2 linked regions of the Homo sapiens genome follow. The protein of the gene in region 1 purifies or fractionates together with the protein of each later gene. This does not show direct contact. Each region holds a gene or a part of one and is shown on either strand. Other genes may lie near its edges.

Region 1 (7,021 bases):
ATTGAGGATTGCTAAAGTCAAGTCACTGAAAAGGCAGGGGTACACTTCCTCAGCCTCTACTTGCCTGGTGGCAGGACATCAGTCCTTCTTTACTGGAGACAGCACTTGTTTATTGGCCCAGAGAAGGAACCAGCAGGCACCAGAGAAATCTGGGAACAGGTTTTACTATCTCTCCACATTTTCCTGACTTTTAAAAGACTGAAACTGTTCTCTTCTTTATCTTGTCACTATGCAGGATCTATGGCTATTTAAATACAATTTAAGCAAAGCCCCTAAGCCACTGCCTTGGAAGAGAAATACTTTTAACTGAGGCCTTTCCCGTACAATGGGTTCAGCACGTGCAAATGTCTGCTTGTTTGTTTGTTGTTGTTGTAGTTAATCTGACTTTTATTTTCAAGAAAGTGTCTCAACTAAGAACCTAAAAAGGGGGAAAAAGAGAATTGTTTTGTCCTCTACAATAAATTAGGCCAGAATAGTAGCATCTTATTTTACCTGAAAAGTTTTTTTATCCTTCCATAAATTACTCCCTTTTAAAAATCATTTTGGCTTCAGTTAAGGCTTCCAAGAAAGGTGCAGCAGAGACAATCCTACATTCACTCTCCGCAGGTTTATCAAGTGTTTGCAGGTCCTTTCTTACCTTAATCCTCTTAGTTTCAGGTTCTGCTATGACACCACTGGTCTTAAGGTCCAAATCTCCAATACTTCTTGTCATTGCAAGCCTGCCATTTACGTGAGGCTGCCCCAAACTATTCCAAGCTACAAAACCACCACATTTCTTGATCCTGTTAAAAGTTAAATGACAATGGTGTGATATGTAGAAAACCCTTTGGGAGGCCAAGGAGGGCAGATCACGAGGTCAGGAGATCGAGACCATCCTGGCTAACACGGTGAAACCCCGTCTCTACTAAAAAACAAAAAATTAGCCGAGCGTGTTGGCAGGCGCCTGTAGTCCCAGCTACTCAGGAGGCTGAAGCAGGAGAATGGTGTGAACCCGGGAGGTGGAGCTTGCAGTGAGCCAAGATTGCGCCACTGCACTCCAGCCTGGGCGACAGAGTGAGACTCTGTCTCAAAAAAACAAAAAGAAAACCAAGTCACTGTTAAACTTAACCATGACATCAGTTTAAAAACTATTATGAACTAAAAACATCATCCACATAGAATGATATGATGGATCAGTGGTGGTAGTACCTTTCTTTTTCATCTTTTCTTTCTGGAGTATGGTCAATGGTCAGCTTCATGGGTTTTCCTTTTCTACACAAAATAGCCCGGCTGTCCCCAACACTGGCTACAACCAGTTCAATACCATCTCGCAATAGGGCTACTGTTGCAGTAGTCCCAGAGGTCAGAAGAGTTGCTACAAGTATTATGAAAAAAAGAGTACAAGTTAGTGACAGTCAAATGATTGGATATGGAATTTTTATTACAAAATAAAACACAAGCATGATAAACTAATGCTGGAATATATCATTCTAATTTAACTAGAGCTAAGCAAATAAAATGCAAATGAACTATGTAAGTAACAGCATGCAGAGAAACAAGTATTTAATTCAGTAACAAGTCTCCATGCAAACGGAAAGGTTGCTAACCTTATTTGGCAAACACTGCATCACTATCTACAAATGGCCTCTATTCATATCAAGTAGAGCTGACTTGAACTTATAACAACACCTTCATGGATATCTGGTGTCCAGACTGAAAGTATTAAAATTTAATTAGGTTGGCTATGATGGTGGGATGACTTAGGTCTACTTGAGCCCATGGAGGCAAGCTGACTTTTCTATAGTCTATGGATTTAGAAGGTTTTCTCTTCCATTTTTCACTCCTATGCTGTGAACATATTATCAGTTAGTAGGCTAAGTGAGACATGCCAAGGGTATACCATTTGCATATTCTACCCCTGTATGCTTCTAAAACTGTTTTAATTTTATAAATGTTCACCAAAAAAATCCTAAAATGGTTACAGGCTCACATTCTTTTCTGTTTATCTTTGTCCTCCCTAGACGTGAAACAAAGTTACAACCATCATTACAGGAGCAGAAAATCTGGGGGAGGGGAGGTGGAGAATGAAGTTCATTCTAGCTTCTCATAAACTTGGTGTAGTTAACACTCCTAACTCCAGAAGGTTGTAATACAAAGAGGTAGTCTTCAAACGCAGGGCAGTACTGCCAGCTGCAACTCCTGGGGTCCTGTTTGGGCCCAGAGCATCCCACAAATATGAATTTTCTCTAATAACAAATAAAATTCATTGTTACTGGGCTTGAGGTCACCGTTTCCTCCATCCAACTCAGACTGCATTTCTGCATCTTCCTTTGATTTCCTCTAACAGTGTCTGCCCTAAGTTCTTTACCACTTGTTAAAAATTGTTAATTTGCATTGAGCCTTGTCAAAAGTGAGAATATTGTGAAATTATGGGCTAAAAAATAAAACAAAGTGGAAGAAATCGGAAAAGATAACTTATTTAAAGCAGGTATTGTCTTTAGTAACACTGTTAACTCTTTAAAACATTCCAAAGATGACTTCGATTTTAAAGGTACATTTAGGAAAAACGAAGTGCTACTAATTTGACTGATTAAGACTCAATCTTTCCAAGCTTTTTTTTTCTCCCCAAAAAGATAATTTTGAAAACTTCATCAGTAATGCATTGGAAGGAGATATATACATAAATAGATTTTTCCAATCAGTATATTAAAATGCCTGCTTTAATCAGAAAAGTAAGATGGAAAAGCATGAACAAACTCTACTTAATCTTTTATAGTCATGCTGAACTTTCTTGAGAAATAACATTTATAGTTGCACTATCTTTCCATTTTTCTCTTGATTTTGGAACTGTCGTGCCAATGTAATATTTCTGCAATGTTGAAAGATACATTTGTCCACCATATAACATAAATGTTTTAGCATAAGTATCAGTGATATTTATATTACAAATGTTAACTCGTAACTTTAAATTACCCAAACGACTATGAAACAGTGGAATCTTTACAGTTTGACTAACTATGATATTTCAAACGATTTAAAGAGCCAGATAAGGGAACACGGCATTTATTCAGATGCTACCTGTCCCGGGAATTTAATATTCCTTCCATTTGTTTAAACCATCTACAATAGTTTTCTTAAAAATGGTTTATTATTGGCCACAGTAAAAGAGTTAAAATTTCATAAGTAGAAGTTTAGTTATTTAGGCTTGTAATTTATGGCTCTGTCACCTAGGAATTTTAAGACTTTGAGTTTTTACCAACCCAACTTCACAGTTCCAAAATCCCAGGATTTATAGGAAAGGCTTCAAAACTAACTGTCAATTCTGATTTGCTAAGCATTTAAGAATGTAAATATTAAATCAGCATTCATTTTCATTTAACATTTAACATGGAAGTAAAAATTCTCACTTTTTGCCTAACAACAAAACTAGAAAACTAAGACATCTTTCAATAAGTTCTTAACACTCACTGGACAATTTCTACTGCAAGTCATCTCAACTAATGGGACAAAGAGATGTGGGAACCTTCCCGTAGTCCAGGATAGGAACCGCTGGACTCCTTCACCTGGGACAAAATTAAGCAGATCTCTCTTTCCACTGAAGCCCCGCATATAGTGTCCACGGGCTCCAGGTCTAGAGCTGCTGACCAGGCACAGTTCTCTGCCACAAATAACACGCACAGAGGCAAATACGAATTTCACCCAGGAATTGTGCTCAAACATTACAAACCTGCAACACAGGGGAGAGCAGAGAAAGAGCTGCAAAATAAGGGAAGGGTTTTTTATTTTGGTGAAAATTTAACTAGCAAATTATATAATATTCCAGGAGATGCCAAATCAATTATTCCAAAACTCAGTTTGTTCCAGTTGATGGTATTTTGTAGTTGAGCCTATTTTTTCATCACAGGGTAACACTTCTTTCTTAATTTTGTGGTTTCTAAGGTTGAAAAAACTATATAAAAAAGTATCTGTACCAAGACACATAAATGGTGACACAGACCTACATTTAACACACTCACAAAAACACTCACGCATATACACATTCACTGAAATAATTGGTCTTAAACACAGTAAATCACTACCTTTACTGAGTTACAAAAAATGCACTGTAAATTTGTTTGGTAGCAATATCAGAATTGTCTCAAGAATAGAAAGGTAAATCTACAGTTACAGCATGGAAGAATTTGTATCTGACAAGCAGGATGTAAACTACAGTATACCACCAAATTACTGGGACTTAAATATATATCAAGAAGGAATCAAAGCACCCGCTATACAAGATACATAGAGTAATGCATTTGTTAATGGTGCTTAATGCAGAGACTTAGTACCTATAAGGCATTTTTGAGTAGAATGATTAATTTAAATTCATTGCTTAAATAAAGGCTAGCGAGACGCATGTTTATAATTTTGTATAATTCACAAAATGGGTATTTCTGCAGCTCTCTCTTTCCCCCAGTGTTGCAGGCCGACACATCAAAAGAAAAATGATCAAGATTGTGAATGCCAACATAAAGAGCAAAAGCTATACTTTTCAAAGTATAATGACCCCTAGTAATTACTCAATTGTGTAAATAATACTATGTATAAACCAATACAGTTTCAATATTTATTAAAAATGGGTGTTCTAGACTCATGACTCATGAACACCAAAATCAAAGTAATGAGCTGAAGCAGTAGCAGCACGGTAAGAACATCTCATCAATGCTCTCTTTTTTTTTCTTTTGGCTGTCCCGGCATAGGGGATTCAAAAATGCTGTGTTTACAGCCCTGGTTCTTTTGTAGTTTAATTCTTCCATAAAGAGGTCACAGGATATGAAGAACATAAAAGTTTCTGGTGAGACTCATAATGCCATCAATGTCCCCCACTCTGAATGTCTGAGCAAGTCTTCTCTTTTTGTTCCATTTGTCCCTTTCGGAGCTTTGTTGCTTTCAAAGTTTAAGCAATCTGGAAACACTCTGAAGAGCTTATAGGAAATATAGAATTATAACCTAATTTTCTACCATCTAGTTTGTTCTAAGTGGCTATCTCTTTATAAACAACGGACTGGTGGGATATCATCCGGATTTACTGGCTGCTTTTATTAATTGTAAAAGTAGACATTACTGGTATAAATTGAATAAAAAAATTAAAAGATGGTGATGAAATTTGCTACTGATAACTAAGGACAGGTTGAAAATGCATTAACAAAAAAGCAATAAAAATAGCTGACAATTTCTTAAGGGCAAGGGAATCTTGTTCTTGCCATTTCTTGATAAGTGGCATTTTGATTTTATTCTTTTCAAAATATCCCCAGCTACAACAGTAAATTATTTTATTTTATTTTCTACTCAAACAATAAGCTTTTATTATATTTTACAGATCAGTCATCCAGGACATGCTGCGTCTGTGGTTGGCATCGTCTCATTTCTGAAAGGACTGAATGCACATAAAAGTCTCTTGCCCACGCTGAACTCACACATGCCGGGCAGAAAAGAGCTCTCACTAAGTGTAACTTGAGTGTGAACTTGCTCAGGCAACAGCAATGCCATTCAACAGTAAATATTTTAAATGTTAGTAAGATAATTTGAAGTTCTTTATGTAGCTGTAACAGCTTTGGAACTGAAGTTGAGAGGAGATAAGAATGTTTTAATTTCACTTAAGAAAGTTAATATGGTATTGATACAGGAGCTAGAAATAAATTATGTAGGCACATAGTGAGGGTAAAGGAGTCCGTGGCAAGGCTTCCCTTTTAACAAAAAGCAGCCTCCAAACCATTTCTTTTCTAACAAAGAGCAACCTGAAAAATTGAGCTGCAAACATAAATAAGCAAGCTGGAAGCTTGCACAGGTGAATGCCAGCAGCTGTGCCAATAGAAAAGTACTACCTGGGCTGGGCACAATGGCTCACGCCTGTAATCCCAGCACTTTGGGAGGCCAAGGCGGACAGATCACCCAAGGTCGGGAGTTAGAGACCAGCCTGACCAACATGGCAAAACCCCGCCTCTACTAAAAATACAAAAATTAGGTAGGCATGGTGGCAGGCGCCTATAATCCCAGGTACTTGGGAGGCTGAGGCAGGGGAATCACTTGAACCTGGGAGGTGGAGGTTGCAGTGAGCTGAAATTGCACCATTGCACTCTAGCCTGGGAGACTAGAGCAAAACTGTCTCAAAAAAAAAAAAAAAGAAAAAGAAAAGGGCTACCTGGGGCCAAGCATGTTCAATATGTTCCATCTTCCCTTTTCTTTGTCACCATGTGTAAAGAAATGGGCAACATGGCGCTGGCCAGGTAGAGAACCCATCTGCATAATAAAAGATTAGGGTGGGGGTGGCCAGATTCTTGAATGCTCTGCAAATTGCACACCTAGGCCTAATCAGTTTTTCGTGTGCTATGCAAATGGCACATCTGGTCCAACCAATCTTTCATGCCCTATGTAAATCAGACACTGCCTCCTCAAGTTCATCCATAAAGCCTCCTGCACTTCACCATGGACTAGAAAGCTGTTTGGGACCCCTCTTTTTGCAGGAGAGAGCTTTTCTCTTTCTTTCACCTATTAAGTCTCCACTCCTAACCTCACTCCTTGTGTGTCCTCGTCCTTGATTTCCTTGGTATGAGACAATGAAACTCAAGTATTACGCCAGACGAGCAATGCTGCTTCAGTAGGACTGAGCGGCACGCCTCTCTTTTATACCTAAAATCTCACCATTAGTAATTCACTTCTATGGTTTAAGCCTTTTTCAGGTGTCTGCTAACTAAAATTCAAATCCACCCAGGAGTGACAGCTCATTAAAATGCAAACATTTTATAATAATTTGATTAAATCAGCTATATGATAATCAAAGAAAAAATTACAGTAACTTCAGTGAGAAAGAGTCAGCGTGGAGATCTCAGTTCAATCCAAATAATTATTGAGTACCTGCCAGGTTCTATGCAGGGTGCTGCACACTGGAGATTCAAAAATGAATAAGCCACAGTCCTTCACCTCACAGGAAGGGTTCAAGAAGAGGGGAAAGGGGTTAATACTAAAAGAGAAAAGATGAAAGAAACTGGAGAGGGTAAACTGC
Region 2 (7,842 bases), on another chromosome or scaffold:
ACGTGCTATAATGAAGGAAATAGAGTGTGTTAAGGGAACCTAGCTGGAGAAAGTTATGTTGAAGTAAGACCTGACGGATGAGTAGGTGTAACCCCGGGGATGAGGTATGTTGCAGATAAGGCCACAGTGGAGTAAGGCAAGAGTCTTTAAAGCAGAGGAAATACATGTGCAAAGGTCTGGAGTTGAGACAGAAAGCACAGTGTGTGTGCAAATAACTCAAGTTGTTCAACAGACTTCTAGTGTAGTTTAGTGTGGAATAAGGGTGGGGAAGTGTCAGAGTTGGGGTTGGGATGGGTAGGTTTTGGTAAGGAATGAGATCTAAGAGACTGGAAAGGTCCAGATCATAAATTGCCTCATAGTCATTTGAATTTTGGACATTTTGCTGAAGGCAGTTTTAAACAAGAAAATGATATTATCAAATGTCTCTTACTTTATAAGATCACTCTGGCTACACTATGGAGAATGGGTTGGAAAAACTACAAGACCACTGGAGGCATATAATCCAGTTAAGAAGGGCCAAGACACCTCCAGTTGAGGGCAGGGTGGAAAAATCATGACTAGATTTCTTCAGAGAGAATTACAGGCTCAAATCAAGAGAAACTGGGCCAGGGGCAGTGGCTTACGCCTGTAATCCCAGCACTTTGGGAGGCCAAGGCAGGAGGATCACCTGAGGTCAGGAATTCAAGACCAGCCTGGCCAACATGGCAAAACCCCGTCTCTACTAAAAATACAAAAATTAGCCAGGCATGGTGGTTCGCGCCTGTAGTGCCAGCTACTTGGGAGGCTGAGGCAGGAAAATCACTTGAACCCAGGAGGTGGAGGTTGCAGTAAGCCGAGATTGCACCACTGCACTCCAGCCTGGGCAACAGATCAAGACTCTTCTCAAAAAAAAAAAAAAAAAAAATTAAGAGAAACTGGTTTGAGGGTTCAGTTCTAGAGGCTGGAGAGTCTGACCTGCTTTGAAGCTTTACGGCAGACACTGTGAGAAGACTAAAGACAAGCTTTTCTGCTGGGCATGGTGGCTCATCCTGTAATCCCAGCACTTTGGGAGGCCAAGGCAGGCGGATCACTTGAGGTCAGGAGTTTGAGACCAGCCTGGCCATCATGGTGAAACCTCGTCTCTACTAAAAATACAAAAATTAGCTGGGCATGGTGGCGTGTGCCTGTAGTCCCAGATATTTGGGAGGCTGAGGCAAAAGAATCGCTTGAAACTGGGAGGCAGGGGTTGCAGTGAGCCAAGATCGCACCACTGTACTCCAGCCTGGGTGACAGAGAGAGACTCCATTTCAAAAAAAAAAAAAAAAAAGACAAGTTTTTCTAAGCTCCCTTGTGCTAGCCGGGGCCATGTAACACAGTTCTGGCCAGTGAGACTGGAACCTCCTCCTCTTCCACCTTCCTGCCTTCAACATAAAAGAAGAAGTCGTAGCAGCCCTCTTGTATACAGTAGGAAAAGGACAAATGAACTACTAGGGAAATGACGACATTGATAATCATAAGCCACTTAATGTGAGCTGACATCTAATTGGGGATGCTCTGTATGCATGGATACTTAATTTCCTATTTATTGGTTGGGTTTTTAATTGCAGCTGGAAAACATCACGTACATATGAAACTGGAGATTTCCAGGACAGTAGGATATATGGGTTTGGAGTAGACCTGGTTGGAAGACTGGGGAACTTTAGGACTCATCAGCATAGATGGTAACTAAAGCCAAAGAGTGGATGGGATAACCCAGAAAGTGGGAAAAGTGCAGAGGGCCAAAGTCAGAGCCCTTTAGAAAAAGCAATATTTAAAAGGCGGGAAGGGAAACAGGATATTGGGATGAAGTGGCCAAAGATGAAGAAAGAATAATATTGGGAAACTGGTGTCACAGAAAACAAGAATGGAAAGCTCTAGAAAGAAGAGAGACCAATATGTGTTAAGTGTTGCTGAGAAGAGCTCTCTTCTCCTGGTTATCTCTTACTTATCCTTCTTACATCTCAAGTCATACAGTATCCTCTGGGAACTCCTCTGACCCCCAAGTCCACCATAGGTGTCCACTCCTGTGTGTTCCTGTAGTTCTAGGCACTTGTCCCATCACAGTACCTCTCATGCTGGGTTGTAATTTCTATCTGTCTCCCTCTCCTTTGTCCTCCACCACAAGGTTGTAATCTCTTGAGAAGGAAGATATGATGTCTATTTCATATTTGTATCTCCAGTGCCTAACACAGCACTGGTACATAGCAGGCTCTTGAAAGTTTTTGTAAGATCGGGGTCACCAAGGCAGGAGCATCTAGGGAAAGGGAGAAGAGGCAGGAAGAAGAAACACTAAGCAAATAGGGGTAACAAGTATCATTACCGGTATGTGTCAGTGCTTGGTGCTAAGACTGGGAGAAAGAGAAGGAAGTGCAGGGGAGATGGTGATGGGTCACAGCCTTGGTGACAAAAGGGTAGGAATGATATGTGGTGCGGACATAGAAGTACAAGGCAAAAGAGTGACGCCGAGCTGCTCAGTTCTTCGGAAGCAGGGACCCCTGCTGATATTCTATAACTTGAACGGCCTCTTCCTCTACACACTGTAGATTCCTTGAGGGTAGGGGTCGTGTTACCAGTGTTTGGCATACTGTGGGTACGCAATAAATGCTAAACGAATATATCTCTGGATCCACAGCGCCTATCACAATGCCTGGGCACCTGGAAGGCGCTCAATAAAACGCTAGCTGGGCCTCGGGGTACAGATGGAGCAGGACGGCTGAGTCGCTGCAGAAGCGCTTCCAGGTAAGGGGAGGGAGTGGGTTTCCACTCCAGACTGGTCGACTCGCTCCGTTCTCTGCCCTTTATTTTGCATGCATCCCTTCACCTCTCCATCACGCGTGCCCTGGACGCCTGGCACCGGAGGAGAAAGTAAAACACCACTCCTGGATGACTCCGGACAAATCACTCCTTCCCGGCCTCAGATCTGCCCAAACGTGCTTACCAGCTTCCCCGCATTCCTGCTCCAGGTTCTCAGCATACGGACTGCAGCCATCTTACCCCGGAAATGACAACAGTGCCGCAAACTGGAGAGACTCTCCTCGGCGCGGCCTATCAGGAGATGGGAAACGCGCCTCCCCCTGGGCGACCAATAGGGAGGGAAGAAACGAGCCTCCCACCCAACAGCCAACCAAGGAGTAGGGCGGAGCCTGAGCTAAACCCTAGGATCTGGGACCCAGCGGGGAGTGAAAAGAGCCTGGGGGACGGAGGCGGGGCAGAGGGCAGCCCAAATTTAACACTGCTGTGTAAATACAGATGCACCAAAGATAATCTTTTTAGTGTATGTGATGGGGAAAATAGAGAGTGTTAAGGAAACACAAAGAAAGGTACTTACCTCAAGAAAGTTATGTTGCAGTAGGACCTGAGCGATGAGTTGGAAAACATTTCCCCGTCTTCATCTTGTAGTGTAGCCGCCCCAAATACAGAAAATAGAATATTTCTATACGTTGTAGCAAGGCTCTGGACAACTAGTTGTTTCACAAGTCCATACAGCAGTACTTCCCAATGACTGCCTTTTTTACTCCCATTTATGTTTTTGATTACCAAAATTGGCTAATCAATTTTTTTCATGAAAGATGAACATTACCTAATGTCTAAAATAAACATGTTATCATCTTTCTTTTTACAGACTGCTATCAGATGCAGCTAACTAGCATATGCAATACATGTCACAGACACATGATCTTGATTTAGTTGTCTCTTAAAGAAATGTCAAATTCAGGTCAAGTGGAACTGGTAAAGAACAGATCAGAGCTTTCTTTTAAAAGGCAATCTTCCTCAGAGCAACTAGGAAACCAATTCCTGGAAATGTCCAGGATGACATTAGTCTGTTATTGCTTCTTACGTGGGAATGAAAATCTGCACAGATGTCTAAGGAATTACAGAGAAAAAAAACTGGAACAAATACATTTTAAATGCTCAACATTGAAGATTAGTGGTTATGAAACAAAATCTCAGGTATTTCACAACTTCATTGTTTAATATGACCCAAACACTTTTCCCCCTCATTTGCCATTTTATGTATTACACATCTACACACAAAAAATCAATGCAAACAATAAATCTTATTATCTTTTTTGTTTGTTTGTTTGTTTGGTAGAGATAGGGTCTCTTGGGCCAGGCGTGGTGGCTCCTGCCCATAATTCCAGCACTTTGGGAGGCTGAGGCAGGCAAATGGCTTGAGCTCAGAAGTTCAAGATGGGATCTCTCTATGTTGCCCAGGCTGGTCTCAAAGTCCTGGTCTCAAACTGCGATCTTCCCATTTCAGCCTCCCAAAGTCCTAGGATTACAGGCATGAGCCACTGGGTCCGGCCTAAATAGCTATCTTTCTCAGAAAATCTAGAGTAGTCAAAAGAATTTCAAGTTTTTACATTTCCTTAAAAATGTTTATAGACATTATTAATATATTTGATAATCCCACAAGCATGTGTTTGTATAAAAAGCAGTGGCAGTTGTACCTTTGAAGTGAATCATCTCCCTTCCAAGCTGCTGCTATACAACTTTCTTTGTCCTAATTTCGTTTTTAACTGTACCTGCTCCTCAGAAGATAACTAGTTTATTTTCCTTTACCGTCTTCTTATGTCAATGGATTCTTGCTTCTATATTCAGTATAATATGTGTCCTTATCTTTCATTCCAGCATCTGGAAAGAAATACACCATCTATTCCCTAGTTAATTCTTTTATTCGAGTTTGAAAGAAACAAAGACCCCATTTCTTCTCTTTTTTTAGATTTAAAAATGGCCAGTTATGACCCACCAATTCCACTCCTGGATAGCTACATAAGAGAAATGACAACAGTGTTCACACAAAGACTTGAATAGGAATAATCATAACAGCATAACAGCCAAAATCTAGAAACAGCCCAGATGTCCATTAACAGGTGAATAAACAAAATGTGGTACATCCATATTCTGAAATATTATTCATCCTTAAAAATGACTGAATTAGCGATAATTGCTATGACATGGATGAATGTCAAAAAAATATTATGCTAAGTAAAAGAATACAAGCACAAAAGATCACATATTACATTATTCCATTTAAATTAAATGTCCAGAAAATGTTGATTTATAGAGATGAAAAACAGATTAGTTTTAGTTATATTAGTTATATAATAAGATTATATTAGTATTATTAATTAATAAGGTTAGCATTAGAAAACAAATTCGCCTGGGGCTAGAGGTGGAAGGGGCAGTGATTGCAGAGGCAAGAGAGATTTTTTTTGTGGTGATGAAAATTTTCTGTTGCCACTTTGTGGCAATGATTGCATAATTCTGTACATTTACTAAAAATCTTTGAATTATACACTTAAGACAGGTGAATTTTATGGTATGTAAAGTACACCATAATAAAGCTGTTAAAACTGTGTTATATGAGACAATAATGAACATATGAATAAAAACAAATACATAAGTCTGGACGTGGTGGCTCATGCCTGTAATCCCAGCACATTGGGAGGCGAAGGCGGGTAGATCACGAGGTCAGCAGTTCGAGACCAGCCTGGCCAACATAGTGAAACCCCATCTCTACTAAAAATACAAAAATTAGCCAGGCATGGTGGCATGCGCCTGTAGTCCCAGATACTCGGGAGGCTGAGGCAGGAGAATTGCTTAAATCTGGGAGGCGAAGGTTGTGGTGAGCCAAGATTGTGCCATTGCACTCCAGCCTGGGCAATAGAGCAAGATTCCATCTCAAAACAATACAAAACAAATACATATGTCACATGATAATATAACAAAAACCCTTGAACCTATCACTCAACTTTAAGAAATAGAACCTATGGAAAAACACATTATGTAGGTTGTCTAAAAATAAAATACATTTTAAACTAAAAAAAAAAGAAATAGAATCTTTCCCGTTAGTGAAGATCACTGTCTGCTCCTTCCTTTACCTCTCCCCTTCATAAGCGTTATCTTGAATTGTGTTTTTCATTCCTTTGTTTATTTTAGAATTGACCACATATACATATATGGATGGATGCCTAGTAACATATTATTTACTTTTGCTTGTTTTTGAGTCTCATAAAAATGGTATTAAACTGTATGTATCTTTCTGCAACTAGTTTTTCTGACATGATTTATTTATCCATTCTCTACTGAGTGGATATTTGTGCTATTTCTAGTTATTTGCTATTACCGTCAGTGCTGTTATGAACATTCTTGATCATTTCTCCTGGTGCATGTTCTAGGGTTTCTTTAGCACAGCGCTTCTCAGACATTAATGAGCATTCATAGCAACCGGGGATCTTGTTAACAAGCAGATTCTAATTCAGTAAATGTGGGTAAACCTGCCATTCTGCATTTCTAACAAGCTCCAGGTGATACAAATGCTATTGGTTAGCCAACTACACTTTGATTAGTAGGCTTAGGATAAATACCTAAAAGTTGAATTGTTGAAACAGGGGTTATGTTTATCTTCAAGTTTACTCTAGATAATACGAGATTGTTTTCCAATGTGATTGTACAAACTACATGCCTAGCTGCTGTATGTTTATTGTTTCTCATTTGATATTGTCAGATTTAAAATTTTCCCCCAATTTAGTAATTATAAAATGATGTTATAATCTTAATTTGAATTTCCCTGATTATTAATAAAGTTGAGCATGTTTCTACATGTTTATTAGCCATTCTTAGAGTGCTTGCTCAATTGTTGATATTTCTAAGATGGTTGTCTATGTTACTTTCTATAAATGTGGGACAAAGTAAGATGAAACAATTTATCCTTAAGAAAATGACTGTGGGACAGGTACGGCGGCTCTGTAATCCCAGCACTTTGGAAGGCCAAGGCGGGAGGATCGCGTGAGCTCAGGAGTTTGTGACCAGCTTGGGCAACATGGCAAAACCCCATCTCTACAAAAAATTAGCTGGGGGTAGTGGCGTGTGCCTGTAGTCCTACAGACTGAGGCGAGAGGATCACTTGAGCTCTGGAGCTCGAGGCTGCAGTAAGTTGTGATTGCATCACTGCACTCCAGCCTAGACAACAGGGCAAGACCCTGCCTAAAAGAAAAAAAAAATAGAACATGACTGTGGCTTCGTTAAATTGACACTCTGCTCTATTCAATGGAATTCTCAGAAAGAGTGACGTTTACCAAAATGCAAGATGCTAATTAATGAAGGTCTTAAATTACTTGTTTGGCTCCTTGGTGTGCCTGACTGGTGTAGAAAAATCTGAGGATGACCTTCTGAATTCTGCTCTGAATTCTAAGTGGTCAGGAGATAAATGTAGCCTAGAGTCAGCCCCTGCATTGACCATTACCCCAAAATATACCAACACATGCTTGCCAGAGCTACTGTAGTTTAACTATTTATGAATTTTGAGGACTTTTAATAGCCTAAGTATTTAAATATCATTACTTATTTAGAAACTGTTCCAATATATGCTTAGTCAACTATGTTAATATAGAGTTGTATGTATTGTATATAATACAGATATATATTTTGTTTAATATGGATAGTTTGTAGTGATTCATTAAGAGTTTGAATTATATATAGATCTGCCTCTTTTTTGCCTATCATGGGCAAGTTTCAATTTTCTTGTGTACAAGATGAGATTGACATTGATAATACCTTCCCTACCATCTTCAATATACCTTCAGGGATATTTTGAAGATCAAAGGAATTCTAGTATCTTGATACTACTTTATATGATGAAAGAGTCTATATAAATGTAGTATTAATATATTGGATGACTTATCAAGAAGACAAATAACAAATGTTGGCAAGGGTATAGGGAAAATGAAACCCTTGTAAACTGTTGGTGGCAATATTTGTAAATTGGTACAGTTTCATGGCTGAACAATACTTCGTTGTATGGATATACTTTATTTTTGT

What was found. The genes of interacting proteins can lie anywhere in the genome.
Region 2: the proteins of PPM1K (region 1) and DBT purify together in Homo sapiens (affinity purification with mass spectrometry; 6 studies listed by BioGRID and IntAct, with this or other methods). This does not show direct contact.

Annotation. Positions count from the first base shown.
Region 1 is NC_000004.12:88,267,553-88,274,573, forward strand, and holds part of PPM1K (protein phosphatase Mn(2+)-dependent 1K), read right to left. Parts: intron 6,903-7,021; coding exon of another isoform or gene 6,874-6,902; intron 3,736-6,873; coding exon of another isoform or gene 3,543-3,735; intron 1,355-3,542; coding exon 1,189-1,354; intron 783-1,188; coding exon 638-782; intron 1-637. UniProt on the Homo sapiens protein: Serine/threonine-protein phosphatase component of macronutrients metabolism.
Region 2 is NC_000001.11:100,246,814-100,254,655, forward strand, and holds the start of DBT (lipoamide acyltransferase component of branched-chain alpha-keto acid dehydrogenase complex, mitochondrial isoform 1 precursor), read right to left. Parts: upstream 3,022-7,842; 5' UTR 3,008-3,021; coding exon 2,957-3,007; intron 2,273-2,956; exon of another isoform or gene 2,086-2,272; intron 1-2,085. UniProt on the Homo sapiens protein: The branched-chain alpha-keto dehydrogenase complex catalyzes the overall conversion of alpha-keto acids to acyl-CoA and CO(2).